Linked DNA regions of Homo sapiens: region 2 is linked to region 1. The links come from fine-mapping of genetic effects on gene expression. A gene starts in region 1. The other region holds a variant in brackets. All regions are shown on one strand. Distances are between the middles of the regions.

Region 1 (15,648 bases):
TCCACCAGGTGGCAGTAAGTTTTTACCCACAAACAGTTCTGGAGACTTTGACATTTGTAAAAATAATAAAATTATATCATGTTAGAACTGACTGCTTGTGATTTCAGCCCCGCTCTTTAGCAAAGTGCACACACACATTCTTTTAGCAAGGACTGATTGATGCCTACCAACACAGGTCACTACTACTTCCATACAGTGCTTCATGTATACATTCTCATTTGACTAGGGTAAAAATATTTGTCAGGATATGCAGAAATTATTTAATATGTAATATTGTTCCCCATTTTACTGAATGAATATTCAATGGGGTACAAAGTTAGTTTTTTTAATTGCCAATATTCAGTCATTTTTTGATCTATAAAAATTGATATTTTATCCTAATATTTTTGTCTATTTTTGCCAAGTGTGCTCTATTGAATCTCCCTTCTCTATAGTGCCTTTTTTGTCAAAATGTGGTAAATGTGGTCCTAGAATCAGCAGCATTCCTAAGGAGCTTGTTAGAAATGCAGAATCTCTGGCCCCATCCCAGACTAACTGAATCATAATTTTCATTTTAATGAGATCTCCAGGTGACACGCACATTAAAATTCGAGAAGCACTACACAGCAAATCCTTTAAAGACAACCTGAGCAACTTCTTTTACCCATCCCACAGTGTGGGTTATTAAGTCTGTCTAGTTGAACACTCCAGTGTCAGTTCCAAGCAAACATTCTCTGGCTGAACTCGTGACTTAAGCAACTCTGAAGATGAAAGGTGGGGTTTTTAACCAGTTTTTCCCTCTCCTTTTGAGGCAGGAGAATAAGGTCTGGAGGCAGGGAACCTAAGGCTGTTTCACTCCAACTTCTTAGAGCCAGATTTAAAGGAAAACCCTAACTTGCCATGCCTAAGTAACAAAAGGACCAGAGGCTACTTTGCAAACCCCCACCTTCTGTGCGTGGCAGATGGGAAATTGGCTGTCTGCAACCAATCACACTGCTTGCTGGCTGAGAGTTCGTTTGCAACTTTGTAACTTCACCTTAGCCTCTGATTGCTTGCTTTTGGCAACCACTCAGACCAATTGCAAGCCACCACTTCATGAAATGAAGTGGCCAATGGGAAGCCTCTAGCGGGTATTTGGACCGGAGAAGATTCTGAGCCACTACTCACGCCGGCTCCCACACTGTGAAGTGTACTTTCATTTTCAATAAATCCCTGCTTTCGTTCTTTAGTTGCTTTATTCTTTCTTTGCGGGGCGTTTTGTCCAATTCTTAGTTCAAAACGCAAAGAACTTGGACACCTTGCAGTCAAGACCCTCTATCAGTAACACTTTCAGGGCCTATCCCTCTAGTGTTGGGGACTGGGAGAGAGAATAGGGATGAAAGGGATAAATTTTCCTTAACTGTACAATGAATACTGCATCCAAATGTTCACTCTTTAATGGGGCACATTGAGTTCTCCTAGAAACTCTGAAACAGCTTCCCAACTGCACAGTCCCTCGATCAACACAGGCGATGGAGCAGTCTTAGCTCTATCTCTGCTAACTCTCTTAGTTTCCTCTCCCAGAAGTAAATCCAGCCTCTTGCTGCTAGAATTTCTTTCCCCCTTCAGGATCAAGATAGTTCAAACCTGGACAGCATTTTCTACGCAGCATCGATTGACCCATGAGAAACTTACACATCCTCGGTATCCTTGCTATACCACATGGTAGATGTTGCAGATTGCTTTATTTCAGCCCACTCCCTGGCCAGCTATTTCTCCAACTCTTTTCCTGTTTCATGTAGGTACAAGGCAATATCAGCAAGTTTGATAGTGAATGAGATGCCACTCTCCCTCCCTCATAGTCACCTAGCTGATTCTGTTGGAGTCTTGTTCACTTGGGATAGGGTGAGGCATAAAAAGGAAAGGAAAAACCATAGTACACCCCAGGAACCTGGCTTCAGTGATTCTGTCAGGTGTTTTTCCTCTTGCCAAGTGTTGAACTTATGTGGTCTGAGGGTAGAGAGTTGGAGGTTTTGGCTATGGTAGATCCCTTTTTGTCCAACTTTTATCCTTGGGTGAAGGAGTGGGTATCTGACCCCAAATGTTGGCAGCTGTTTAGAAGTTGAGGTACTTCATGCACTTGTACCCTATTTTAGATTTCAGTCAGCATCTTTTTTACAAGTATTAGCTGTATCTATTAGTGTTACATATTCTTGCTGGTTCTCAAGTATTCAATCACTAGAACGGTATTAGTCACATCATATTTCACTGACTGATTTTAGTTTGCTTCTCTTTTGTACTTTTGAGAGGTGAAGCCAGCTGGGCTTCTGGGTTGGGTGGGGACTTGGAGAATTTTTGTGTCTAGCTAAAGGATTGTAAATGCACTAATCAGCGCTCTGTGTCTAGCTAAAGGATTGTAAATGCACCAGTCAGCACTCTGTAAAAACGCACCAATCAGCATTCTGTGTCTAGCTAAGAAGGATTGTAAACACACCAATCAGCACTCTATGTCTAAAGCACTCTGTGTCTAAAGGATTGTAAACGCACCATCAGCACTCTGTAAAATGGACCAATCAGCATTCTGTAAAATGGACCAATCAGTGCTCTGTAAAATGGACCAATCAGCAGGATGTGGGCGGGGCCAAATAAGGGAATAAAAGCTGGCACCCAATCCAGCAGCAGCAACCTGCTCGGCCCCCCCTTCTACACTGCGGAAGGTTTGTTCTTTCACTCTTAACAATAACTCTTGCTGCTGCTCACTGTTTGGGTCCACACTACCTTTATGAGCTGTAACACTCACTGTGGGGGTCTGCAGCTTCATTCCTGAAGTGAGCGAGACCATGAACCCACCAGGAGGAACAAACTGCGGACACACCACCTTTAAGAGCTGTAACACTCACTGTAAAAGTCTGCGGCTTCACTCCTGAAGTCAGCAAGACCACAAACCCACTGGAAGGAAGAAATTCTGGACACATCTGAACATCTGAAGGAACAAACTCCAGACACACCATCTTTAAGAGCTGTAACACTCACTGCAAGGGTCCATGGTTTCATTCTTGAAGTCAGTGAGACCAGGAACCCACCGGAAGGAATAAATTCCGGACACACTTTCATGCACATTACTAAGGCTACCCCTTGACAATAATCTGCCTACAGTCATAATTTGGGACAAAGATGATTCTAAAAATCATCTTTCTGGCATTTCATTCACTCATTAAATCATTCATTCACCTCAGGCATTGGTGGTTTTGTTTGTTTGAGACAGACTTGCTCTGTCACCCAGGGTGGAGTGCAGCAGCACGATCTGGGCTTACTGCAGCCTCTGCCTCCCAGGTTCAAGTGATTATCCTGCCTCGACTGACTCTTGCTCTGTCACCCAGGCTGGAGTGCAGCAGCACGAACTGGGCTCACTGCAGATACTGCCTCCCAGGTTCAAGTGATTTTCCTGCCTAAGCCTCAGACTATAGACATGCACCACCACACCTGGCGAATTTTTTTGTATTTTTTAGTAGAGACAGGGTTTCACCATGTTGGCCAGGCTGGTCTCAAACTCCTGACCTCAAGTGATCTGCCTGCCTTGGCCTCCCAAAGTGCTGGGATTACAGACTTGAGGTACCACACCCAACCTGGTTTTTATTTTTAAATTTTAATTAATTTATTTTAGTGATGGGGTCTTGCTACATTGCCCAGGCTGTTCCTTAACTCCTGGGCTCAAGCAATCCTCCCGGCTCAGCTGGAACTACATGTACGTGTCACTCTACCCAGCTCACCTGAGGTATTGAAATGGATGCTACACGTATAGTGGCAAAGAAAACACATGGTTCTCGCCCTTCTGGAGTTTATCTTGTGGTGGTAGGGAAAATAGTTAATAAGAAAACAAATATCATATATACATATAACTAATATATACATAATTTAAACTTAAGTATTATGGGGGAAACTGGACACAACAGAAGAGAATAACTTTGGATATTATTGGTGGTGGGGGGGCAGGTGGGGTGTTGGAGGGAGACCTACTTAAATAGGGTAGTTAGATCTTTGAGATGTGATGGTTGAGAAGGAGCCAGCCATGAGAAAAGGTAGGAGGGGTCCAGGCAAGGGCACAGCATGCATGAAAGCCTGAGAGCAGAGATAAATTAGCAAAGAAATGAAAGGCAGTTTCTGGGTTGGAGTGTCACAGGAAAAGGAAAAAAATGGTAAGACATGAGGTTGGAGAGGTAGGGAGGGGCCAGATCAAACAGGTTATTGTGACCATAATTAGGAATTTGTATGTAATGGGAAATGACAAAAGGGGTTTTAGAAGAAAATAATGTGACTTCACTTATATTTTCAAAATAATTTGACTGCTCTGTGGAGAATAGATTGAAAGAAGCATCCAAGATATTTGTGATACAGAAGAAGAGACATCAGGTAGATAAACAGACGTGTGTATAGAGCCCAAGGGAGAAGTGAAGGCTGGAGTTAAAAATCTGTGAGTCATTTCAACTATTCTTAGGGTTCCAACAAGAAATTGTAAAGATTTACAACCACCATCGTCACCACCTAGCCTTTATGTAGCAGTTTAATTTACCTTTGATCATCACAGTTCTCTGAAATGCCTAGTCTTGTAACTTTACAGATAAGTACCTGAAGCTCAGAGGAATTACTTGATTTGCTCACTATCTCTCAGCATGAGTCAGAATTTAAGCCAAGAGTTTTGACCACAAAGTCTATAATACTACCTCAACTATGAGGCAGGGTTTTGTAGTTCCATTTTAAAGGGATTAGAAAGAATATGAGTAACTGAATAAACTATGCAAGCTTTAAAAAAATACTTAACCTTATATTCTCTATTAAGCATATCTTAAAGCTTCCTGTTCTCCAATTCACCTTAAAGTATGGTAGTAAAACTAGGAATGTCAATGAATGGATGAGTTACTATGAAAGAACAGATATGACTTTGTGACTGATGGGACATAGGAGTTAGGGCAAGAATTAGAGCAAAAGAGACATGAAAATTACCCAAAAAGGAACATCATTGACAAGAATAGCCAACATTTCTATGGGATTTCTTATGTACCAGATAAAATTACACACACACAGACACACACACTGTCTCGGTTAAGCTATGAGATAGGATTGTAATTATCCCATTTTAAAGATGACGAAATTAAAGAACAGAGAAATAACTTGCTTAAAGTCATGCAGAATATTAGTGGTGAAGCTATGATTTAAATCCAGGCAGTTAAGATCCTAATTTTGTACTCTTAACCACTATGATACGTTGCCTACCAACTGGGGGAAATCAGTTGACAGAGGAGTTGGAAATACTCAGTTTAAATGATAGCAAGGTTCACAAGAAAGGGTGAACAGAATATCTGAAATTATGTTTAAGGCTATGGAATATAAATTTAGGAGCTATGAAATTATGAGGCAGGATTTTTGTTTTATGGAAATGTGGGATCTGGAAGTTGGAAAAGCTATTGGAAATATCCAATACAGGCTGGGTACAGTGGCTCGCGCCTGTTAATCCCAGCACTTTGGGTGGCTGAGGTGGGTGGATCACTTGAGGCCAGGAGTTCAAGACCAGCCTGGCCAACATGGTGGAACCCCATCTCTACTAAAAATACAAAAATTAGCTGGTGTGGTGGTGGGAGTCTGTAATCACAGCTACTTGGAAGGCTGAGGCACAAGAATTGCTTGAACCCGGGAGGCAGAGGTTTCAGTGAGCTGAGATCATGCCACTGTACTCCAGCTGGGCAACAGAGCAAGACTCTGTCTCAAAAAATCTGTCTCAAAAAAAAGACATATCCAGTACATTTTTTCTTTTCTTGGAGAGAATGTGGGAGAAAGGAGAAGCTGTGAACTGAACCATGGGAAATGTTCAAGCAGTGAGAGAGGACTGAGCAGAAAAACGGGGGATTATCAACAGGTCTTGGTAAATAATTAAATACAGTGAAAGAGGGAGGAGTCAAAGATGGACATGGTTTGATCTTGGTGACTGAGAGGACAATGAAATCATTAAAAAGGGCAAAGGTATTTTGAAGATAATATGTTCTAGATGATGGGGAATATAAGGAGGGATCAGTGTCTCTAGAATAAAATTCAAAAATCCATCCTAGGGAAAGCATTCAAGCCCTCTCTTGTCTGGCTGCAACCTACCTTATCAGTATTAATAACTTTGCCTCCGTCTTGCTACCTACCTCTTGTCAGTCGGGACTCTTGATTACATGTGAAAGAAAACCTCTCACTGGTTTAAGCAATAAAACAGATGCAAGAATTTACTGACTGGTTTAACGAAATTTCCAGAGGAATCTAATCTACATTTGTTTCCAGGCCTCAAACATGTCTTTAGGCCAAACCTGTCTTCAAATCTGCTTTTTTTCCGTGTTGCCTTCTTTCTCAGAATTCACGTGTGGAAAGATGGCTCCAGGTCTCCATTCTCCCAGATTTAAACCCATTGGTAAAGACGTAACACCCTTCTTAGGAACCGTAGTTTGCAACCGAGGATTAAACTCAAATATGCCTTCCCCTTGTGTCCTGCTCAGACCATATGGACTGAGAGTGGATAAATGATAGTTCTTCAAAAGAAATTATCAGAATAGGGAATGAATGCTGAACAGGCAAAAATGTCGACCAAAATATCTTCTGCTATATGATGGGGTAAATTAACAAATCATGTTTTCCCACTCCTGAAAGAAAAATCCTTAGGTGCAGGATCAAGGATCTGAATAAGTGCTTCAGTTTGATGTTCTTTTGCCCAGAGCATACAGCAAGAATTGAAAATGTTTACTGAGGTGACTGTTACTTTAAAGGGAGGATTTTACGGCCAGAAAAGTGCATTTTTTGAAAGAAAAAGATGGCTTTTATTTCAAATCCAAAAGATATTCATTAAAACATAGGAATTACTAGGAATTAAGACTGTAAAGATCTCTTTTCCAGTAGAAGCACTGAAATGTGCTTTCTCATGTGGACCAAATGTGCCTTAACGCATCAAGATAAGTAATTTCCCGAAGATAAGTAGTAGTCACACGTTGTTCCAACGAGGAAATCCATGCAAATTAGGGTCCTGGTTTATTTCTGATGCTTCATTCTCCATCTTCCATTACACTGTCACTTGATTTTTAATAAAAGGGCAAGGGAAAAATCTCCAAATGAGCAAATAAATCCCGACCTCCTTTCGCTTCCCTCCTCTGGCCGAGGGCGCATGCCCTGTCTCCCCAGGCCCACCCACCAAGAAGAAGCAACCCAAGCCGCGCTCCCTCAGGAGATGGGAGAAGATGTTACTGGCGGTCCAGGCGCCTTTGCAACTCTTCTCTCCCAGCACCAGGAGAGGAAACACGAATGATGCCACTGGGGGAAAAAGTCTCCTGCCAACACCCGAAAAATCTAAGCTGGCGTCGGCAGTGTTTTGCTTTGGAAGGGAGAGCGGGTTCCTTTTCTGGCCTCTGGATCCCTCATCCGGCAGGAAGCTCTTCTTCCTCCTCCTAGCCCCCGGCATACGGGGGGAAAGCCAAAGAGCCTCCAGGACCTAAGGCTAGCGCTCTGCCGGCCGGCCGCGCCCTCCACCCGACCAGGCCCCGCCTCCCCGGCTTTCTAGTAACCGGCGCCGTTCCCGGCCGGGGCAGGGAACGGTGCGCCTGCAGAGCCAGATTTCGGCCCAAGGGGCGCGGGAGTCTCTTCGGGCGTCCGGGATCCCCTGGCGCGGCTCCGTGCTGCCTAACGGGGCAAGTCGCATGCGCACCGAGCCGCGCTGGGGAAAGGGAGAGTGAGGGGAGGGGCGAGCGCAGAGCCTCCGCCGGCCGTCTGAGCCCGCGGGGTCGCTGACGACGCATGCGCCGGGAGGGGGCGCAATCACGGACTCGGCTTGCGGCTGCCGGTTTAAAAAAGGAAACCCCGGAGAGCGAGAGCGCGAAGGAAATCTGGCCGCCGCCGCCGCGAGCGCTCCCGGTGAGAGGCGCCCGCCCGGTGGGCCCAGGGCCTGCCGAGTGCCGGTTGGCTTCCTTGGCGGCGCATGCGCGCTCCTGGGCTGGTGGAGGAGGGGAAGGGAAGGGAGGGGGAGGAGGAGCTGGCCACAGGAGCGGCGAATTTTTGGGGGGGTGGGTGGGGGGCGCCACTCACAGCCCCAGGTGCTGCTGGAGGTGGGAGCCGCGGCGCCTCCTGGACACAGGCGGGGTAGTGGTTCCGAGTCACCGCAGCGGGAGACCTGGGTGGGGGAGGGAAGAAGCCGGAGCCGCCGCAAGCCACACGGTGAGGGCGCGGGGAAGGGGAGGGAGCGGGGGGCGGCGTGTGTGGGGCCGGGGGGCGGCGGCCAAGGGTGGGGAAGGCGGGAGCTGAAGCCCAAGTTTGGCGTGTCGTTCTAGTGTGTCTTTTCCCGGGACTTCGGGCCGAGGCCCGCCCTGCCTGAGAGGCCCTCTGGGGCAGCTGGGGTTACCTGCGGGGCAGGGGCGGGAGTGGGGTGCACGGCGGGGCCGGGCGGCTTGAGGGCGCCCGGAGCTGCGGCCGATTCCAGCAGCTGGGAGGCGGGGAAAGACGGGGACCGGGTGCCGAGAGAGCTTTCGCTGGGGACCCGCTAGGCCTTGTGACCCACTTTATTCCTGTCACCACTCGGGCACGTTTGGAGCAGCGCCCAATGGGGCGCCGGGGCGGCCAGCTCCTCCGGGGAACCCCCGCCCTCCCGGCGCCCGGCCCGCGTGCCGCAGTCCGCAGTCCGAACGGCCGCCGTTGCCGGCCGCGGGCTGGTTCCGTTAGTGGTGGTGGTTCCGGGGTTCCGTTCCTAGGCAGCGCGCGGCTATTAGCGTCTGACTCCAGCGACCGCGCGCGGGTTCGAGGGTTGGCGGCGAGGCGCTCGGTTTCTCTTCTTCCGTCCACCCGCGCTTCCCGTTCCCCGTCACCGCCGCTGGCGTTTGTAGATTTCTTTCCGCCAGTGAAGCTGGGTTTTCTGGAGTTGGCTCTGGCGCTCTGGCCCCTGGAGTGTAATTTCCTACACGCAGCGCCGCAGAGTTTATATTCTTTGAAAGTGTTTGTAGCTTTGTAGAGGTCCTCTTGTTGATGGTAGGTGAGCCTAATTCTGCAAGATAAAAGCCTAGTCTCTGACCTGGCAGATGAAAGATCAAATCAGATTGTGGTTTCCTGCTATTAGAATGCCGTGCTATTAGACTTTAAGGCTTTTTAGCCTTCTTTAAAAAATAAAAAAATTTTTACAGTGGAAGAAAAGCACAAGAAGTAAACTTTTACAGTCGTTGATTTGACTATAACGCTGATCCCCCCAAATCAAAGGTAATTTCACTTTGAAGATTGCGTTCTGATTTGTAGCTTTAAGCGATTAGAGAAAATTGTGCAATATTCCCCTCTACCTGTTTGAAAATAAACATTCTTAAAAGGATGTAATTTAGATAATGAATTGCTTTCTCTGAAACTTATCCCTTGGGACACCTCAAATCTGATTGGTTTTCAAAGCTTGGGGGAAGGAAATTAATTCCTGTGATAAGTGGTTGGCTGAACAGAATGTCTTGAAAGGTTAGCCTGTAGCATTAGGAGAAATACCTAATGTAAACGACGAGTTAATGGGTGCAGCACACCAGCGTGGCACATTTATACATATGTGACAAACCTGCACGTTGTGCACATGTACCCTAGAACTTAAAGTATAATAATAAAAAAAGTAAAAAAAAAAAAAGTTAGCCTGAAGAAAGCAGACTGAAAATGTTCTAAAGCTAGGCGTAATCAGTTATGAAAAAAGAATAAGGAAGCTTTCTACGTACTAACATGCAAAGATTGCAAAAATTTGCTATGAAGTGAAAAAAGCAAGGTGTAGCGGTACTTTGTGAATAGTGTGTTACATCTTAAGGGCGAGGTGTAATAATACAAGTTTATGTTTGCTCTTTATATAAAGAAATTATGGGAGGATTTAGAAAACTAACAATAGAGGAGAGGGAGAAATAGTCTGAGGGAATGGTGGGAAATGAGATGTATTATGTGTATGTCTTCATGTTTTCAAATTTTTGTGTGTATTATGGACTCATAAACTGGATTAAACAAAAATCCTCCTCCCCCAAATAATTTGTGTGATTTTTGTTGCCTAATTTATGGTGATTTGAGTCATTTTCAATATGATTGCTTTTCATATTTTTTAGGAAAATCAACTAAAAAGGAAGTTTGGGATACCTTTTATGACTATTTACACTTTAATTTTTAAGATTGCAGAGGTCACAGGCATTTATCTTTTAAAGATGTTTAGTTATATCTTGCCTTGCTAAAATATATGACTGTTTACATTTGGCATTATGGCTGGATTATGCTGCTTTCAGAGTGTAGTTTGTGTTTCCCCCTCCTCTTTTTTTCAGGAGTCATAGATGGGTAAAATTTTACTTAACCCCAAAGTTTCATGACAAACAATTATGAGGAGGATGTGAACATTCCCTTAAAGTGCTAGTAAACTTGATTGTCTAGGTTAGTTTGCTTTTCAGGTTGGGAAACTTTTCTTTCTTTTGAGGAAATCAAACATGAACCCCAGTGAAAGGTAAATTGGGGTGTGTGTGTGTGTGTGTGTGTGTGTGTGTGTGTCTGGTTGTTTCTCATGAAAGTGTACAAAATGAACATTTTTTTAGGACTGGATTGTTGAAAACCTGTTTAATGAGGTTAAGACTGCACAGGCAGCTGTTAGATGAGATATAATTTTGGGAGGGGACCCTCAAACTCCCCCTGGTGACTAATATTGTGTAATGAAAGTAGTGAATAGTGAGTAATGGATTGCAGTTGCTGTGGGCATTTTTGTAATATTACCAGTATTCCTTTTTATTTTGTAGGATAGGATACTTATATTATTTCTGTTTGATATGTAGGTTTTTCTAATAGACTTCTGCAAAGTGTCACTTATTTTTCATTTGAATTCCATGTGGGTCCGTTCAATCTTTTTTAAAAATGGAATTACATTTCAATTTTTTTTTTTTTTGGAGACGGAGTCTTGCTCTGTCACCAGGCCGGAGTGCAGTGGCACGATCTTGGCTCACTGCAACCTCCGGCTCCCAGGTTCAAGAGATTCTCCTGCCTCAGCCTCCCGAGTAGCTGGGACTCTTATTTTTAAAATTACAGAAGTAAATTGATGCTCATAAAAAGTTAATACAGTGTATATATAATAAGTGACAACCCCTTTACATCCACTTCTAGCTCACATTCCTCCCCAGAGGAATCTAGGGAGCACAGCTACTCGTATACCCTTGACTGAAGGGTAACACTGTTAACACCACTGTATGATCTTGTAGATCTTTTTCTGTGCATTTGCAAATATGTTCTTTTCAGCCTTGAAAACGGAATCATCTTGAATGATCATCTGCTTTGCCATTTTGCCTCCAGTATGGGCTCTGTTATTACCTACAGGACAGGGACATGACTTGGAGCCTGTCAGAAAGCTTAACATCTGATATAGACCATAGGTCATACTCATCTTTTCACTAGTGAGGGGCCAATTGTTATGGAGGCATTTGCAGAGTTTGAAGGGAGGTCATACTGATGTGAGTTTTATCTGGTATAGATTTAATTCACTGTAAACTTCGAGCGGCCGAGGTGGGAGAATGGCTTGAGCCCAGGATTTCAGGACCAGCCTGGGCAACATAGTGAGACCTCTTTGCTACAAAATTTTTTTAAAAAAAATTAGCCAGATGGGGTGGTGCACACCGTAGTTTCAGCTAATTGGGAGGCTGAGGTGGAGGGATCACTTGAACCCAGGAGTTCAGCCTTGGTGACAGAGTGACACCCTGTTTTAAACAAAACAAACCCAAAAGGTGCTTGGATTCCATGAATTTTATAGGACTCTTTAGAGTCCAAGTTTTAGGGTTTTCTTTGGCTTTTGACTTGATCGATAGTGTATGGGTTAAACTTTGATTTTTTTTCCTTCTGTACTTGCTTGCAGACTCCTACGAAAGCCTCGTAGATTACACCAGCCTCTTGAGCTCCTCTGAAGTGAACCTAAGCAGACTGTCCTTAACTAAGGGACACTGATACTGACTTGGATAAAATTTAGCTTTTGAAGGGAAAAGGAGAGAAGAGGCTCTTTGGTTTGGCTTTTGCTTAACTGACAACAAACAACTAATATGCACTACCCTCTCCTCCATCCATCCCTCTGGTTCTCTAATAGTTCCAGAGGGTTTGTTTTAAACCAGGTTACAAAGAATTACCAAACCTTAATTCTTTTTAGCTGATGGAGTTTGCAAAAAGTTCAGAGTATTGATCAAGACTATTTACTATGGGAGATACCTAGAAAGATGCAGTATAATTGACCCTGCCTTCAGTGGTTTTGAAATCTAGTATGGTTAAAACAGCATAGACATTAATAATAATAATAATAATAATATTATTATTATTATTATTATTATTATTATTATTATTTGAGACAGAGTCTCTCTCTGTCACCCGGGCTGGAGTGCAGTGGCGTGATCTCAGCTCACTGCAACCTCCGCCTCCTTGGTTCAAGCGATTCTCCTGCCTTAGCCCTCCAAGAGTAGCTGGGATTACAGGTATCTGCCACCACACCCGGCTAATTTTTGTATTTTTAGTAGACAACGGTGTTTCTCCATGTTGGCCGGGCTGGTCTCAAACTGCTGACCTCAGGTGATCCGCCCACCTCGGCCTCCCAAAGTGCTGGGATTACAGGCATGAGCCACCATGCCCAACTGAAAAGCATAGACATTATAACACAAGGTGGAAAATGATAGATTTTATAAGAAAATTACATACAACATTTGTAAGGATGAGCCTATTTCTGGCTGTTTTTTTTTTTTTTGGTGGGGGGAGAGGCATGGGATTTTGAGGGAGAATACGTATCTTAACCTTTTAATTAGTTAAGAAAGGAAACTTAGATCTTAGCTCTTGATAACGTAAGGAGTTGTTATGTTCTTTTAGCAGGCATCTGTGAGACTGATAGCTATTTCAGTAGTTTTTTTTAAGCTTTCCCGCTGGAAAGAACCATTTGATGTTTTATTTGATAATTATAATACAGCCTCTTTAATCATTTCAGGATTGCTAGAAAAATTAGGAAATTAAATCCTATCAGTTAACTGTTGTCTACCATCAAATATGTCAGCCAGTGTTAATATTAAAAGAAAATTGTTTCCTCTTATCTCAATCTTGAAGCATATATATTATGTCACCTCTTCCACACATTTTTACTTCTAGTGCTGTGTCAAATAAAGCATTTATTTACTGTGACTATTTTAATAAAACAATATTGTGGGGGAAAAGTCAAAGTTCTGCACTGTAGCTAAACCTTTTGATGTTTATCTGTTTCCTTATAGTTTTTTACAGATGCATAAAGTAAAATATTTTTTAAGTTCCTTGTAGGCATTACACCAATGGCTGTTGCATTTTCTCCTTTTCTGGATCAAAAATTCTAGATGGAGTTGTATGAATTATTTATAGAACACTCAAGTGTCAGAGCAATATAATTGTTACTAATTGACTATAATTACATAATGGCATTTATATTTACAGGTTGCTTTACAACCATTTATTAAAAGCCCTATTAGGTGTAACTTCTGTGAAACAGGTGGATACCGAGATTCCTGTTTTTTTCCATTTTTTTGATTATGCAAATGTTGAATTATTTAAACTTACTCTTATAGCCTCAACTCTGAGTTATTACTTTAGTTGGATATTTCACAGAGATGTAATTCTGTTAATTTTAAGTCTTAGAAGTCTACAGAAATCACTTGTGAAAAATGAAATTTTATGAATTACTTTGTCTTTTAAAGTATGCTGTTTCGGATATAATTTGCTTTTCATTTTTCAGAAACATTTTCATTTTTTACATTAATAATGACGACGATTAAGTTTCTTTTTCAAAGAGGTCACATTCAGGTACTTAACATTTTTAATTCTCATCCCAAATAGTGGAAAATTGAATGTGAGGGCTATCTGGCTGTGACATGTTACCCCATTGATCCCCAGGGTTGATTCAGCTCATCTGGCTGGCTCGGCAGGTGTCCCCTTCCTCCCTCTCCACTCCACGTGCGTCCCTCCTGAAGCTGAAGCTGCGTGCTTGGTTGAAGAGGACAACCATCCCAAATAGAGGAGGACTGGTCTTGGGTCAAGGGTATACGAGCAGCTGCGCTCCCCTGCTAGAACCTTCGAGCAAGCTCTCAAGGTCCAAATAGTGGAAAATGAAAGTACAGGTTGATTCATGTTGGCAGGTTTTGGTATCAAAAAAAAATTAAAAAGCACACATGGGGGATATACCAATAAAGGTTAGACCATATGCCTAGCTAAGAACTTATCATTTGTATTAAAATATGGTTTAATGTAAAGAGTTGCCTTTCTCCATTCCCCCCTCCCCTCCCCTCCCCTCCTCTCCCCTCCTCTCTTGCCCCCAATTAAAAAATAGCACATCCCTAATGTGGGAAACAGTAAGAAAGCATAGATTACATTTTAGGCAGGGCACAGTGGCTCACACCTGTAATCCCAGCACTTTCGGAGGCTGAGGTGGGTGGATCACTTGAGGTCAGGAGTTTGAGACCAGCCTGGCCAACATGGTGAAACCCTGTCTCTACTAAAAGTACAAAAATTAGCCGGGCATGGTGGCGGGTGCCTGTAATCCCAGCTACTTGGGAGGCTAAGGCAGGAGAATTGCTTGAACCCAGGAGGCAGAGGTTGCAGTGAGCAGAGATCACGCCATTGCACTCCAGCCTGTGCGACAGATCAAGACTCAGTCTCAAAAAAAAAAAAAAAAAATTAATATCATTGGAGATCATACCACCGAAAGTGCTGTTGTTAATCTTCTTGATTATCTATCTGCTTCCTGCATTTTGTTGAGCCATTACATAAGTATATGTATACTTATATGATGTTATGGGCTCCTAATGTAGTCCACTGCAGTGCAAGCTGTTCAGTTAACAGTGAATCATCAACATATTTTCATGTCAGTATTTTTCTGCTATGTGATTATTTTTAGTAGGTATGTAACATTCTCATCTCTGTGTAATAATTTACTTATCAATCTTCTGTTGGACATTGAAGTTGTTTTCAATTTTTAGGATAATAATACTGTCACTTCCCTATATCATGCATTTTGATACTGGCCTACCTAGTATCAGTGATTTTTTCTATTTTTGTTTCTCTGAAAATATCTCAATTTCACCTTTTTTTTTTTTTTTTTTTTTTTTTTTTGAGACAAGGTCTCACTCTGGCACCCAGGCTGGAGTGTAGTGGTGTGAACATGGCTCACTGTAGCCTCAACCTTTTGGGCTCAGGCAATCCTTCACCTCAGCCTCCTCAGTAGCTGGAACCACAGGCACATGCCACCATGCCCAGCTAATTTTTAAATTTTTTGTATAGGCGGGGTCTTGTCATGTTGCCCCGGCTGTTCTTGAACTCCTGGGCTTAAGAGATCCCCCCACCTTGGCCTCCCAAAGTGCTGGGTATAGGTGTGAGCCACCATGCACGGCAGTTTCACCTTTTTTGAAGTGGTTTTTGGTGTTTTTTTTGTTGTTGTTGTTGTTGTTTTTTTGAGACAGTCTCGTTCTGTTGCTTAGGCTGGAGTGCAGTGGCGTGATCTGAGCTCACTGCAGCTTCTGCCTCCTGGGTTCAAATGATTCTCATGCCACAGCCTCCTGAGTAGCTGGGATTACAGGCATGTGCTACCATACCCAGCTAAATTTTTTGTATTTTTAGTAGAGATAGGATTTTGCCATGTTGGCCACGCAGGTCTCCAAACTCATG
Region 2 (15,648 bases), 78 kb after region 1:
TAGTCTATGACATAGATTTTTATTCTGCCTGCTTGTTTTAATATGTCTACATTAAAAAATAGAAAAACATTTGTTACTAGGTTTCATCATTTATGAATAGCTTTTTCATAACTAAATCTATTAGAAGTATGTAGTGAAATAAAATGGTAATAATTGTGACAAACATATGTCCCACAGCAGGGATCTCCAAATTTTTCACCATCTCTCTACTGTTGTACAAGGAGGACACTAAGAAAAATCACTGTGGGAATATTACTGTAGTAAAGTTTTTGCATAAAATATTAATTTAGTCTCTTTGATTAATTAAGATAGAGCACTTAATGTTGGGAAGAAGCTTTTTGCCCAGCAGTAGGCAGGCCTAAGGCATTCTTTGTTGAAAGCAAACCTAGTGACCTCTTTGGCCTTTTTCAGCTAATTTCCCTAGTGCTGCTCTAGACATTGCTATTTGAATGGCAAGGGAAGGAAAAGGAAAAAAAGAATTGCTTCAAAATTCTTGGAGCAAAAATCTTCTTTGGTCATTGTGTCAAATAGGAAGCAATCTCAGGCCCATCAGCAACATAACTATCAGAGTACCAAGAGAAAAACCGAAGAGACTGGTATTACCAAGAGACCAAATCCAAGGAGATAACTTGCCATGTTATCTCAAATATTTCATCATACCAAAACCTGGACCTCTTGATATCTACCCAATAAATGTTAATGCCTACGGTTGTCATCTTTAATTAGAATGGGAAGAGACAAGATAACTTGTAGGGCTTTTGTACTCCTCCGGTGGTTGGAGTATGCCACTAATATGTCAATCTGTTTACAGAAATCACTGCACAGTCAGATGCTAGTGAAATTCGACAGGACTGGAAACCTACATTCCTTAGTAATGAAGAGTTTACACAATTAATGTTAGAGGTATGTCCAGATTTAATTTTTGAAAGTTTTATTTTCCTCAAAAAAGAAATCACAGGGTGACTTAATATCCAGGTGTACCTTGGCGATATTGCGAGTTGAGTTCCAGACCACTGCAATAAAGCTAATATTTCAGTAAAATGAGTCACATGAATTGTTTTGTTTCCCTGTAGTCTATTAGGTGTGTAATAACATTATATAAAAAATACTGATCATACCTAAATTTAAAAATACTTTATTGCTAAAAAATGCTAACAATCATCTGAGCCTTCAGCAAGTCTTAATCTTTTTGCTGGTGGAAGGTATTGCCTCAGTGTCAGTGGCTACTAACTGATTAGGGTGGTGGTTGCTGAAGGTTGGGGTGGCTACGGCAATTTCTTAAAATGAGTCAGCAATGAAGTTTGCCACACTGATTCACTCTTCCTTTCAAGATTTCTCTGTAACATGCAGTGCTGTTTGATAGCATTTTACCCAGAGTAGAACTTCTTTCAAAATTACAGTCAGTACTCTCAAACCCTGCTGCTGCTCTATCAACTAAATTTATGTAATATTCTGTATCCTTTGCTGTCATGTCAACAGTATTCACATCTTCTTCAGGAGTAGAGTCGATCTCAAGAAATCACTTTGTTTACTCATCAGTGGAGCAACTCCTCATCAGTTCGGGTTTATTAGCAGATTGCAGCAATCAGTCACATCTTCAGACTCCACTTTTAATTCTAATTCTCTTGCCGTTTCTACCACATCTGCAGTTACTTCCTTCACTGACATCTTGAACCCCTCAAAGTTATCCACAAGTAATCAACTTCTTCTTAACTCTTGGTAATGTTGATATTTTGACCTTCTCCCATGAATCAGAAATCTTCTCATGCCATCTAGACGGGTGAATTCTTTCCAGAAGGTTTTCAGTTGACTTTGCCCAGATCCATCACATGAATCACTATCTATGGGAACTGTAGCCTTATGAAGTGTATTTCTTAAATAAGACTTGAAAGTCAAAATTATTCCTTGACCCATGGGCTGCAGAATGGGTATTGTGTTAGCAGGCATGAAAACAACATTAATCTCCTTGTACATCTCCATCAGCACTCTTGGGCTACCAAGTACATTGTCAGCGAGCAATAGTATTTTGAAAGAAATCTATTTTTCTGACCAGTAGGTCTCAACAGTGGGCTTTAAATATTCAGTAAGCCATGTTGTCAACAGATGTGCTGTCATCAGATGTCCTGTCATCCAGGGTTTGTTGCTCTATTTATAGGGCATACTTCTTAAGGGCTTTGGGACTTTCAGAATGGCAAATGAACATTGGCTTCAACTTAAAAGTCACCAGCTGCATTTGCCCCTGACAAGAGAGTTAGCTTGTCTTTTGAAGCTTTGAAGCCAGCTTTGGCTTCTCCTTTCTAACTACGAAAGTTCTAGATGGCATCTTCTCCCAATAGAAGGCTGTTTCATCTGCACTGAAACTCTGGTATCTAGTGTAGCGACCTTCATCAATGATCTTACCCAGGTCTCCCGGATCACTTGCTCTAGCTTCTACATCAGCACTTGCTGCTTCACCTTGCACTTTTATGTTATGGAGATGGCCTCTTTCCTTATACCTCATGAACCTACCTCTGTTCTCTTCTAACTTTTCTTCTGTAGTTTCCTTAACTCTCTCTGCCTTCACAGAATTGAAGAGCATTAAGGCCTCTGGATTAGGCTTTGGCTTAAGGGGATGTTGTGGCTGGTTTGATCTTCTGTACAGACCACTCAAACTTTCTCCATATCAGGAATAAGGCTGTTTTCACTTTCTTATCATACATGTGTTCACTAAAACTTTTCTTTTTCATTCACAACTTTGCTACTTGTTTGGTTGCAAGAGGTCTAGCTTTTGGCCTGTCTCAGTTTTCGACATGCCTTCCTCACTAAGCTTAATCACATCTAGCTTTTGATTTAAAGTCAGAGATGAGGGACTCTTCCTTTCACTTGAATACTTAAAGGCCATTGTAGAGTTATTAATTGGCCTAATTTCAGTATTGTTGTATGTCTCAGGGAATGGGGAGCTCCAAGGAGAGGGAGAGGGATGGGGGAATGGCCAGTGAGTTGGTGGAGCAGTCAGAGCACACACAACATTTAAATTCGCCACCTTATGTGGGCGAATCACCATTACAGATATAATAATAATGGAAAAAGTTTGAAATATTGCAAGAATTACCAAAATGTGACACAAGAGACACAAAGTGAACACATACTATTAAAAAAAATGATGCTGATAGACTTGCTTGACCCAGGGTTGCTACAAACCTTCACTTTGTGAAAAAACAAAAAGCAAAACAAAACCCAGTAACTGAAGTTCAATAAAGCGAAGCACAATAAAACAAGGTATGCCTGTATAAATAGATTATAGCCACGTCTCAAGTCTGAAGCAAGGTAGAGTATTTTGCAAATTGAGTTATTTTTCTGTTTGTATTTTAGATGGGACAATTAATTGTGTGATTAATTCTTTATGTATTCAGCAGAAATGTTACCATACGAAAATTTGTTAGAGTATAAATATATTATAAACATTTAAACCTGTACTTTAAATCAGAAAAATAAGTGAATAATTTTTATATATTAACTCACTGAATCCTTACAATACTCTTATGAAGTAAACACTAGTATCTGTGTGTCATAATAGCTGGTATTATGAAGTAGACAATAGTATCTGTTTCTTGCTTTCAGATGGGGAAATTGAGGAACACTTGTCTTCTTTTTTTTTTTTTGGGAGACGGAGTCTTGCTTAGTCGCCCAGGCTGGAGTGCAGTGGCACAATCTGCCCACTGCAACCTCTGCCTCCCAGATTCAAGTGATTCTTCCGCTTTAGCCTCCCAAGTAACTGGGATTACAGGCATGTGTCACCACGCCGAGCTAATTTTTTTTATTTTTAGTAGAGACGAGCTTTCACCATGTTGGTCAGGCTGGTCTCAAACTCAGCCTCAGGTGATCCACCAACCTTGGCCTCCCAAAGTGCTGGGATTACAGGTGTAAGCCTGGCGAACAGTTGTCTACTTTTGACCCTATTATGAAATAATAATACTGGCATTATTGTACTAAAGGATTTAAAAAAATAATTCATGAGTTTGCTCGAATGACAAGATTTCTACTTCTATATTAGCAAAGACTGGGTTTGTTTGAGCCATTCTAGAAGATAGGCATCTACTTAAAATAAGTTCTTTGTGATATCCAGATCTCTTTCCCAAAAGAAGGGGGGGGACAAGGGGGAGGGGACCATTTTCTATATATTCGTCAATTACATAGAGTTAGGAAAGGTTACTCTAACTCCCAGCTCTATAAATTATATACTGCAAGTATTTTTACTTGCGCTACACTAGTGCTGCAGATACAAGGATTAATAAGATATACATGGTTCCTATCAGAGGTCACTATCCTTTTCGAGAGCCATTTAAGTAAACAAGAAATTAGAATTTAGTGTATTGACCATTTTAATAGAAGAATCCCTTTTATAGTATCTTTTGTGCTGTGTATCTTCTACTTCTTCTCCACTGGATCTTCCTTTCCCTTAGACTACAAATATACTTGCTCTTTTTTCAAATGCCTTCTCTTGATACTTCACCCCCTTAGAACTGTTTGCCTTTTTCTTCCCTTCTAAAGTTCATGAATGAGTGACTTGTAATAGCCTTCTGATTTTGTACTCATTTTTAAACTCATTGTAGTCCGACTTGCCTTCCTGTTAACATAACTTTTTGAAAATCACCAAAATTCATTTCTCATTTTCTTATTCTTTATCTCATTTTATACCAAACCATTCCTCTCCTCTTCACTTTGTCATTCTTTCTTCCATTGATTCCTTGACGACAGTGTATTCTGTCTTCTCTATCATTTTCTTTTTTGTAATTTCAATTTTTATTACTATTTTGAGACAGGGTCTCACTCTGTTGCTCAGGCTGGAGTGCAGTGACATGGTCGTGGCTCATTGCAGCCTCAACTTCCTGGGCTCAAGTGATCTCGCCTCAGCCTCCCAAGCAGCTGGGACCATAGGCATGTGCCACCACACCTGGCTAATTTTTTAATTTTTTTTCAGAGACAAGGTTTCGCCATGTTGCTCAGGCTGGTCTCAAACTCCTGGGTTCAAGTGATCTTCCCGCCTTGGCTTCCCAAATTGCTACCATCACAGGCGTAAGCCACTGCACGCAGGCTTCTCTGTCATTTTCTCTGGCCTTTTTCTCTTCCTCATCCCTTATATGTAGATAATTCTTCCAGGATTTGTCTTTTGTAGATCTCATTTCTTCAGCTGTCACTTCTGTGCCTAGGATTCTCAAATGAAAATACATTGTAGTGTATAAAATACAAAATTGCATTTTTATTAAGTCTTGTACTCCCTGCTCTGACTTCTCTTCTGAAATCGAACTTCACATTTCTCAATGCTTGCTCGAAGTACTTTTCTTTATTCCTAATACTACTGATTTCATTCAGATTCCCATTAACTTCCTTAATTAGTCCAAAAGCCACTATGATTTTCCTAACTGAATTTTCTTTTCCCTCTAAATCCATTTTACACCCTGCTTCCACACTACTCTTATTGAAGCACAGCCCCCTGCCCTAAAATCTTCTGTTGGCTTACCATTGTATACGGAATAAAATTCTTATGTCTTAACCTTATATTCAAAGCCTTTTATGATATGAACTCAGCCTAATTTTTCACCTTAATTTCCTGCTACTCCCTTTTATTTTATTCTTCATATATCTCCTTAAACTTCAGATGTACACCTCTGTGTTAACATATCCATGATAATAACAAAGTATTCCTTTGTGTGCCTACAAAACATTGTTGATGTCTTGTATGCTTTGGAGACATTAGCATCTTCAAATAAGCCATAATACTGTATATACATGATTGGATCATGTAATATACCTAGTGATGAAGGTAGAACATTGTCTCTATCTTTTAGAGACCAGTTGTCCAATAGATGGCCAGAGAGAGACTTTTTTTCTCCAGAAGCATTTAAAAATGAACAAAGATACATACCAAGGTATTGTAAAGGGGGAAAGCTAGTATTATATTTTGACAGAACTTTGGATATTTCCATATTAAATCCTTTGTCATTTATCTCAAATTTTTATTTCTGTCCTGCAAAATACTTTTTTCTTTTCATTTAACATATCATTATGTTTAATTTCAGGCTCTTGATGGTTTTTTTTTAGCAATCATGACAGATGGAAGCATAATATATGTGTCTGAGAGTGTAACTTCATTACTTGAACATTTACCAGTAAGTATAAAGATCCTACAATCTACTTCGTATTAAAATGCCTATTTTAAATATTCTAAAGCACTGGGAAGTGGACTTTGAGAGCAGTGTACAACAGTCGTTAAAGGGGTAGGAATCAGAGCTCTAAGTATGTCTTTGTTTCAGCATGTGTTTTCTCAGCTCAGTCATAACTAATCTGTAGTAACTTAATATTCAACTATAGTTATGCATCACTAAATAATGGGAATATGTTCTGAGGCACTTTTGTCACTGTGTGAACATCATAGAGTATACTTATAAAAACCTCGATGTGTAACCTACTACGCACTTAGGCTAT[A/G]TGGTATATATAGCCTGTTGCTCTTAGACTACAATCTGTACAGCATGCCGCTGTACTGAATACTACTATAGGCAGTTGTAACACAGTATTTATATGTTTAAAAATACCTAAACATAGAAAAGGTACAATAAAAAGTACAGTCTCAAAGGTAAAAAATGGTATACCTGTATAGGGCACTCACCATGAATGAAACTTGCAGGACTGGAAGTTGCTTTGGGTGAGTCAGTGAGTGAGTGATAAGTGAATGTGAAGGACTAAGACAGTACTGTACACCTTTATAGACTTTATAAACACTGTACACTTAGGCTACTTTATATAAAAATGTTTTCTTCAATAATAATTAGCCTTAGCTTATTATAACTTTTTTACTGTGTAAACTTAAAATTTTTTTTTAACTTTTTTACTCTTGTAGTAACACTTAGCTTAATACTTTGGGAAGCCAAGGCTGGCAGATTGCTTGAGCTCAGGCATTTGAGACCAGCCTGGGCAACATGGTGAAACCCTGTCTTTAAAAAAACATAAAAATTAGCCAAGTGTCGTGGTATGCACCTGTGGTCCCAGTTAATCCGGAGGCTCTAGTAGGAGGATTGCATTGAGCCTAGGAGGCCAAGGCTACAGTGGGCCGTGATGGTGCCACTGCACTCCAGCCTGGGTGACAGAGCAAGACCCTGCCTCAGAAACACAAATATATCATATAGCTGTACAAAAATATTTCCTTTCTTTATGTCTTTATTTCAAAAGCTTTTTTCTATTTAAAAAACTTTTTTTAACTTTTTAAACATTTGTAAAACTAAGACACAAACATACACACATTAGCCTAGGCCTACGCGGGGTCAGGATCATCAACATCACTGTCCTCCACCTCCACATCTTGTCCCATTGGAGGGTCTTCAGGAGAAACAATAGGCATGGAGTCATCTCCTGTAATAACAGTGCCCTTTTGAAATACCTCCTAAAGGACCAGCCTGAGGCTGTTTTAGAGTTAACTTAAAAATATATATATAAGTCTGGGTGTGGTGGCTAATGCCTGTAATCCCTGCACTTTTGGGAGGCCGAGGCATGCAGATCACCTGAGGTTGAGAGTTTGAGACCAGCCTGACCAACATGGAGAGACCCTGTGTCTACTAAAAATACAAAATTAGCCGGGCGTGGTGGCACATGCCTGTAGAATCGCCTGAACCTGGGAGGCAGAGGTTGCGGTGAGCCGAGATCGAGCCATTGCACTCCAGCCTGGGCAACAAGAGCGAAACTCCATCTCAAAAAAAAAAAAATGTAAATAGAGAATACTCTAAATCATTAAAAGTATAGTAAATACATAAACTAGTAAGATGATTGTTTATTATCATGTACATGTGTACTGTATATAATTTTATGTGCTAAACTTTTATATGATTGGTGGCACAGTAGGTTTGTTTACACAAGCATCACCACAAGCACAAGTGCAAAGGATGACTAATGCATTGATCTATGACATTACAACAGATATGACATCACTAGACAGTAGGAATGTTTCAGCTCCACTGTAATCTTAGGGCCACCGGTGGTCATATATGCAGTCCAATGTTGACCAAAACATTGTTATGCAGTGCAAGGTCTTACCACTTTATCTGACCCCTCTTCTTCCTGTCTTCTTTATTCTAATGCTAACTTTTTAGCGTTTCCATTTTAATCAGCCTGTTGAAAATGTTAAATCACTGAGAATGTCTTGAGAATAACTAAATTTCTGCTGAGATACTTGTTGCAATTAGGGCAACTTGTAAATATTTTTCTCAATAGAATTACTTATAAAAAACACTCTAAAAATAGTAGATACAGAACTTTTTATGCTATGTGACTTTGAACTGATAATGTCATATTGGCCATATTTTAATTCATTATCTATATGACCAGAAGGATAGAGAATTAGAAAAGTATATTTTGTTTCATTAGGATGGTGAATACCTGGTTTATGTGCTTACTTTTTTTCTAATGTGTATTTATTAATATCTGCTCTGTGCCAGACACCATGCTAGGTGCTGTGCCACAGCTGATAGGCTTTTGGGGGGAGTTTTCAGTTTTTAATATGTAATGATGTTATTGAAGATGGAGCTCATGGTATAAATATTCTAAAGTTACTTATAAACTACTCTTATAATGCCTCTCTCTGGGTGCAGTGGCTCACACCTTTAATGCTAATGCTTTCAGAGGCTGTGGTGGGAGGATTGCTTGAGGCCAGGAATTCAAGACCAGCCTGGGCAGCACAGTGAAGCATCCTGTCTCTACAAAAAAATTAAAAAAATAGCTTATCTCTATAACAGGGTAAAGTAATTCTGCTTGTAAGTGTCTCTTTCAAGAGATACTGAAAAGTGGTATTTCTCTCCCTCTGATTACTCTGATACTTCATACCTTATAAAGAGAATCAATGGATTTTAGCACTTAAAAGTCCAGGCTCTCAAGGGGGCATTTTTTAAAGTTGAAAGCCATGCAGTACATAATTTGCTAATTTCTTTGGTTCATACAGAAAATAACTTTGACTTTACTGCTCTTCTGGGGCTTTATTTTCTAGTAAGCTCAAATAGTAGGATAAGCCCAACATTTAAAAACATGTTTGAGAGTAAAACATGAGATATTAGCAATGCATAAGTAAACTAGCATAGGCAGAAAAAAGGACAGACTGATTAACTGAGTTTTCTGGACAACTTAAAAAAATTTGTTTTCATAGCAAGAAAACCCAGGGAAAGAATCCCATTATAGGATTAAGATAATGTCTAAGTAATTTAAAATAAGTATAATTGTATGCTTTTAAACCATATATAACTGTATTAGGTTTTGTCATGTTTACAGAAACTATATAATCTAGTCATAGAGCATCATTTGCAATGTGTTCACACTTTCTCAAAGCCTGCTTCTTGGCACTTGCTTGAATTCCATTCAAAATTCGATGCCCTTCATCTCTGTTCTACTGTTACCTTGTATGTACTACTGTCATGATACAGAGAATTATAATTTTCTGTTTATTTGGATAGTTATGGTAGTTGTAGCTTCTTAAAGGCAGGAACTTTATCTCTGCATCCAGAGGAGCTAGCTAGTTCCTTGGAGCGTCACTCAGTGATTATTTGTTGAATGTATGAAAATGAGTGTGCTACTTGATTTGACTGTTTTAAAAAAATCCCTTTCTAATCTTTAGTGAGTTTAATTGCCCTTTGAAATAGACAACATGTGATAGATCTCATTGGAATTGAAGTGTTTGATTAACACTTCCCTCAATAAAAACCCTGTCACCTTCCCATTTTCTTCTGGACATTTTAAAAAATATTTTTAATTTTAGAACCATTTTTAGATGTACAGAAAAATGGACAAGGTAGTACAGAGAATTCCCATGTGCACTATACCCAGTTTCCTCTGTTATTAACATCTTCTAGATTTTAAAAAATTGTTTGTGTCATCCAATCACTAAATGGTAACGTTGACCTAATGTAGAAAAAACAAAGGCTACTGATTTATGTCATATAAGTAAATCAGCAGAACTTATATTTCCTTTTCATGAAACGAGTAAGGGAGATAAAAAGATCCAAGTAGTTACCATTTTCTTTTCTTACGTTTGATTGTGTTTGAGAACTGAGTGTATGTATGGTCACATAAAGTATGGTCAGCCTCATTTAGAGATTTTAAGTGTAGTGGTTAATGGAAAGTTTGACACCTATTAAAGTGGCAGGAGAGGCAGAATTGTTGGGGCAGGCATTGCTTGTGATCATACTACTCTTGATACAGGCATTCATTTTCTTTTCTCTATGAATATGAAACATCCTATGAAGTTATAGATGAAAAAACAAGGATAAGATAGGTCACATCATAATTTACCAAATAGTAGTAGAAGAAATTGTTAGTAACAAATAATAGTAGAAAACTATAATCATTCTCAAAAATGAAAATTTTAGTTCCTATTAATATTTCAAGTTGGTGGCATGTTTTTCTATTAAGATGATGTATTAGTCTGTTGTCACACTGCTATAAAGGACTCCCCAAGACTGGGTAGTTTATAAAGGAAAGAGGTTTAATTGACTCACAGTTTGGCATGGCTGGGGAGGCCTCAGGAAACTTACAGTCATGGCGGAAGGGGAAGCAAACACGTCCCTCTTCACATGGCAGCAGGAAGCAGAAGTGCTGAGCCAAAAGGGGAAAAGCCCCTTACAAAACCATCAGAACTTGGGAAAACTCACTCACTATCACGAGAACATCAGCATGGAGGTAACTTCCCCCATGATTCAATCACCTCCCACTCAGCCCCTCCCATGACACATGGGGATTATGGGAACAACAAGATGAGATTTGGGTGGGGACACAGCCAAACCATATCAGATTATTTTTTGCATCAATATCATATACTATATTTTGATTCTTTATTTTGTCAGTAGAAGGCAACTTTCTAGCATTTGTGTTATTCAGGCCTATTTATTGTTATTATTTTTTGAGACAGAGTCTTATTCTGTCACCCAGGCTTGAGTGTAGTGGTAGGATATCAGCTCACTGCAGCCTCTGCCTCCTGGATTCAAGCGATTCTCCTGCCTCAGCCTCCTGAGTAGCTGTGATTATAGGTGCACACCACCATGCCCAGCTAATTTTTGTGTTTTTCGTAGAGACAAGGTTTCTCCATGTTAGCCAGGCTGGTCTTGAACTGATGACCTCAGACAGTCCACCTGCCTCAGCCTCCCAAAGTGCTGGGATTACAGGCATGACCACTGCACCCAGCCATCCCTGAATTTTTAGTTCACTCCTTTAGTTGTAGAGGCTTTTCAGACTTCCAGAAAAATCCTTTACTGAAATACAGATATATTTTTGGTGTGGTTATCCCTTAAGCCATTATCAAATACCTCCTTAGTCTAAAATCATTTATTTTACTAATAACTGTTAAACACAAGGCACGGTGTTAATGTGCCCTGATTGGAAGTGAGAAAGATAAAGGTGTAAGAGATAGGCCCCTTTTATTCAGCTATAGGGCAACAGGACATAGACATTAAAATATAGTCATCCTTTGGTATCCATGGGGGAATTGGTTGGTTCCAGGACCCGCTGCAGATACCAAAATCCATGGATCATCAAGCCGCATAGATAAAATGGTGTTGTATTTACATGTAACTTACACACATCTTCCCATTTACATACATTAAATCATTTCTAGATTATTTATAATAACTAATACAATGTAAATATGTGTTATACTATAGTGTTTAGGGAACGATTAGAAAAATGCACGTATTCAGTACAGACACAACCATCTGTTTTTTGTTTTTCCTGAATAGTTTTGATCCATGGTTGGCTGAATTCTGCTAAATGGGAAATGAATAATACAAGTAATAAATAATAAAAGAATTTTATTTTTAATGTGGATTATGGTGTTAAGGGAATGCTTTCTTGAAAGAAGTAATTTGAACTGGTCTTTGAAAGGGGAAAGATACAGATATGTAGAGAGGGGGGAAGGTCATCTCACTTCATGGAGTGGGCTTGGAGGGCTGGAGAAAAGACAGAAGAAATGATGGGAATGTGTGGCCTATATGAAGAATAGTATTAGGTTGGTGCAAAAGTGATTGCGGTTTTTGTTATTAAAAGTATGGCACCAACCTAATACAACACCCCTTTCTCCCCTCTCACCATTCTTACTGCCTCTGTTTGTTGTTGTATGTTTTTTGTTTTTAAGCAGTGGAGCTCTTCAAACAAAATCTTCACAGATGCATAAAATAAAAACAAAAAGTATAACTGCTTTAGTTTAATGCAGGGGCAGGACCCTGGGCCCTGCTTCTCAGCTCCTTTTTACTTCCCCACCCTCTAGTCCTACCTTTACAGGCCTTGAGATACTGTCTCAGCATCCCTAGGATTCCACAGAGCAGTTTGAAACGCAGGAAACCAGGTAGAATGCGTAGTGGCAAATGTAAAGTCATGGAAGTTTTGTTATCAGTGGTACTTAAGTATAGAAACTATCTTATTCATCTTTGATTCCACAGCCGTGGCACATTGTAGCCAACCTGATGTTTGTCAAATTGCTATTGATTAATCACGATTAAAGCTGTGTATTAACAAGAATTCTAATGCTTAACATATTAGTTGTCCTTTTGAGGGGGGATAACTAAACACAAGGCTTTTGTACAATGGGATGCAGGATAAATGCCAGGAAAAGATGAAATAAAGGACACATTGGACAATTGAAATCACACCAAAACAAAATCTCCTCTTTATTTAGCTTGTGCATAGTCCTTTATAGTAGGATATACCACCATTGTTTACCATAGGTTTGAGTATATGGTAAGGCTATGACTTGTCGCCAGAGATTTTTCTTATTAACTCTCTTGGTCCCGTTGTATTTTGAAATGTTCAGAACATTTTGGTGAAACACAGCTTTGCAAATAATTTATCAGGCTTTCAAGGTCATATTGGTCATGGATTGGATGACGTTAGTATGATCTCAATCTTATTTTTTGAGATTTGGTCTATAACTTGACATTTGTTGGTTTTCACAGATAATTGAAAGTTAACTGCTGTGTTTAATAGCGATTATGTACTTTTAAAGCAATTGTCTCTTGAATCATTGAAGTTATTTTACTTTTAACAATTTTCTTTTCAGTCTGATCTTGTGGATCAAAGTATATTTAATTTTATCCCAGAAGGGGAACATTCAGAGGTTTATAAAATACTCTCTACTCATCTGCTGGAAAGTGATTCATTAACCCCAGAATATTTAAAATGTAAGTAGTAGCTGTTAAGCAAAAAAGTCAAATGTTGTATTCAGTAGCACTATCCTTTTGCAAGTTTATGAAAAATACAGACTTCTTTAAATACAGCATTACTCCATATGCCCTATTAGGTCCTTTTTCAATATTAAAATATATATAAAATGAAATTGTGACCATATTAAAAATCTGTAATCTATTTCAGTGTATATTGAAATCCCATCTTATTTGTTATAATAAATCCTGGACTCCCATTATGCCATAAAGCTGTATTTTATGCAAAAGTGAGACCTGGCAATATATAGTTATTAATTTATAAATAAAACTTTACTGTATTTAATAAGGGAAAATTAAACATTCTAATTTTCACCATTGTTAACCAATTGGACACTCAAACTGGAAAAAATTTCTATGTTTCTTTTAAAATTATTAAATATAAAGATAAATTATCTACTTTATTAAACAATTAAACAGTCATTTGTTAGATGTATCTAATTTGCTAGGTACTTGTGCTGTATCATAAAAATATCAACAATAGTGAAAATAGTTATCACCATCAAGATACACAACATATTATGGTAGAATCAGACATTTCTACTAGGTCCATTGACAAATTTATTTGACCGGAGTACCTCATTTTCTTCATATATTACCCTGTATAAAATCCAGAATTGTTACAGCAGTACATTTCACCATTAGCTATTAGATACCTTGTTTAATCACCTTTTTCATTATTTTTAAATGTGTCTCATCTGCTAATACTGACATTATCTTAAAGATTCTTTGTATTTGAATCCTCAAATTCTATAGCATACTGTCTAAAAATTGAGATACACACACACACACACTCACACAAATCTGTGTGTATCTATAACTTTGGTAAGAGTGGATGGCCTTTCAGCGAGAGTTGAGAAAAACTAGAGTTGGAGAATTCATTTCAAGCCTTGTTTTAAAACCAAGTTCATATGACATTGACCATTAGGCCACTCTAGTCTGGTACTTAGAAAGATTTAGGCTGTATATAATAGATACCTACAATTAGTATTTGAAGCCATGGATGGAATGGATTGCTTGAGGTAAATACGTAGAACAAGGAGAGAAAAATTAGAAAGGTGGAAGCCAGCCAGGCCCGGTAGCTCATGCCTGTAATCCCAGCACTTTGGGAGGCTGAGGTGGGCAGACCACTTGAGGCTACGAGTTTGAGACCAGCCTGGCCAACATGGCGAAACCCCATCTCTACCAAAAATTAGCTGAGCATGGTGGTGCATGCCTGTAGTCCCAGCTACTTGGGAGACTAAGGTAGGATAATTGCTTGAACCCCGGAGGCTGAGTTTGCAATGAGTCAAGATCACACCACTGCATTCCAGCCTGGGCGATAGAGCGAGACTCTGTCTCAAAAAAAAGAAAGAAAGGTGGAACCCTTTGGAGATAGCAATAGGAAGACAAAGGAGAAGGCGTTTGCTTTGAAGACCCTACTAAGAATAAAATCGACTGGAGAACTAAATAAAAGCCTTTGGCAGAAAGAGCTTAGGCTTCTGCTTCCAAGAACAGAAATGAAAATGGCAAGAATACTTAAGAAAAGTCTTAATTAAATGGCTTGCTGATCTCCTAGTTAAACAAGTGATATACAAAAGAGTTCTTGCCCCAGAAAAAAGAAAGTTTCATGCCAAAAGAATAAACACAAGTTAAAACACAGAGAAAATTGCTTAGAAAATTTGGTAGGTCATTTTGGCCATAATGAAGTTGAGGTTGTACAGGTGGTAAAATTTGTGTCTAGAGAAAGAATAAGGACAGAATTATAAAGGGGCTAAGGAATTTGAGTTTTATTTTTTACAGAGTAGAGAGCCAGTGAAGGAGATTTGGGTAGTTTTGTTATCTGCAAAAAAAGGAAAAACAAAATCAGGTAAATAGTGGAAAGTTCATTTGGAGAAGGCTAGGAAGAAGACTTGCAGCAGTGGGTTGCCTACCCCAGGCTTACCTGGCTTCTGCTTCATAAAGAGACCCTGAGTCTGAGAGCTGAATAAGAGCCCTGGATTTCTCATCATAGTGGCTCAACTCAGGCTGTGCTCACCTGACCTGCAGATTTCCTACTATACAAATCAAGTGATAGCTTTATGGAGTTACTCCTCAGTTTCATTCCTAGGGTTCAGTTAAACACAACCAGAGATCTTATGGATCAGACCATTCTGATGATCAAGCTGGCCATCCTGCCTGGTACAGTAGCTATGACTACTTTTCCTGTAACAGCTGTTTTGCCTCATGGAGGTCCAGGTCTTCATTGCAATGAAAGCATCTTTCACCAGCATCTCTGGCCTAGAAAGAGCAGCAGTACCTTGCTTATAAAAGTTGCTGCCACTTTCGTCATCTGGTTTGGGAGATTAAAAAAAATCACTCAGGTAGAAAATTTTGAAAAGGACCAGACTGGGAGACAAAAAGGAAAACCATATAATCCTAGCAATAAAAGTAAGGATGGGCTGAGCAC

Evidence for each region. PIP is the estimated chance that this variant, and not a neighbour inherited with it, causes the effect. A credible set is the group of variants that fine-mapping cannot tell apart.
Region 2: its variant is the best candidate, but not a certain one, in a credible set for the expression of CLOCK in whole blood (INTERVAL, PIP 0.61).

Annotation. Positions count from the first base shown.
Region 1 is chr4:55,539,021-55,554,668 of GRCh38, reverse strand. CLOCK (clock circadian regulator) reads left to right here and starts at 7,760. Exons shown (of 23, transcript NM_004898.4): 1 at 7,760-7,887. LOC124900704 (a long non-coding RNA gene) reads right to left here and starts at 8,804. Exons shown (of 2, transcript XR_007058122.1): 1 at 8,059-8,804; 2 at 6,780-7,053. It also overlaps the pseudogene RN7SKP30. RefSeq lists silencers at 7,485-7,854, 7,915-8,014, 8,135-8,764.
Region 2 is chr4:55,461,218-55,476,865 of GRCh38, reverse strand. CLOCK (clock circadian regulator) reads left to right here. Exons shown (of 23, transcript NM_004898.4): 7 at 812-903; 8 at 6,060-6,149; 9 at 13,061-13,181. Among named protein-coding and RNA genes, the nearest start is that of TMEM165, 73 kb to the right of the region's middle. The variant A/G (reference allele first, on the strand shown) is at 6,466.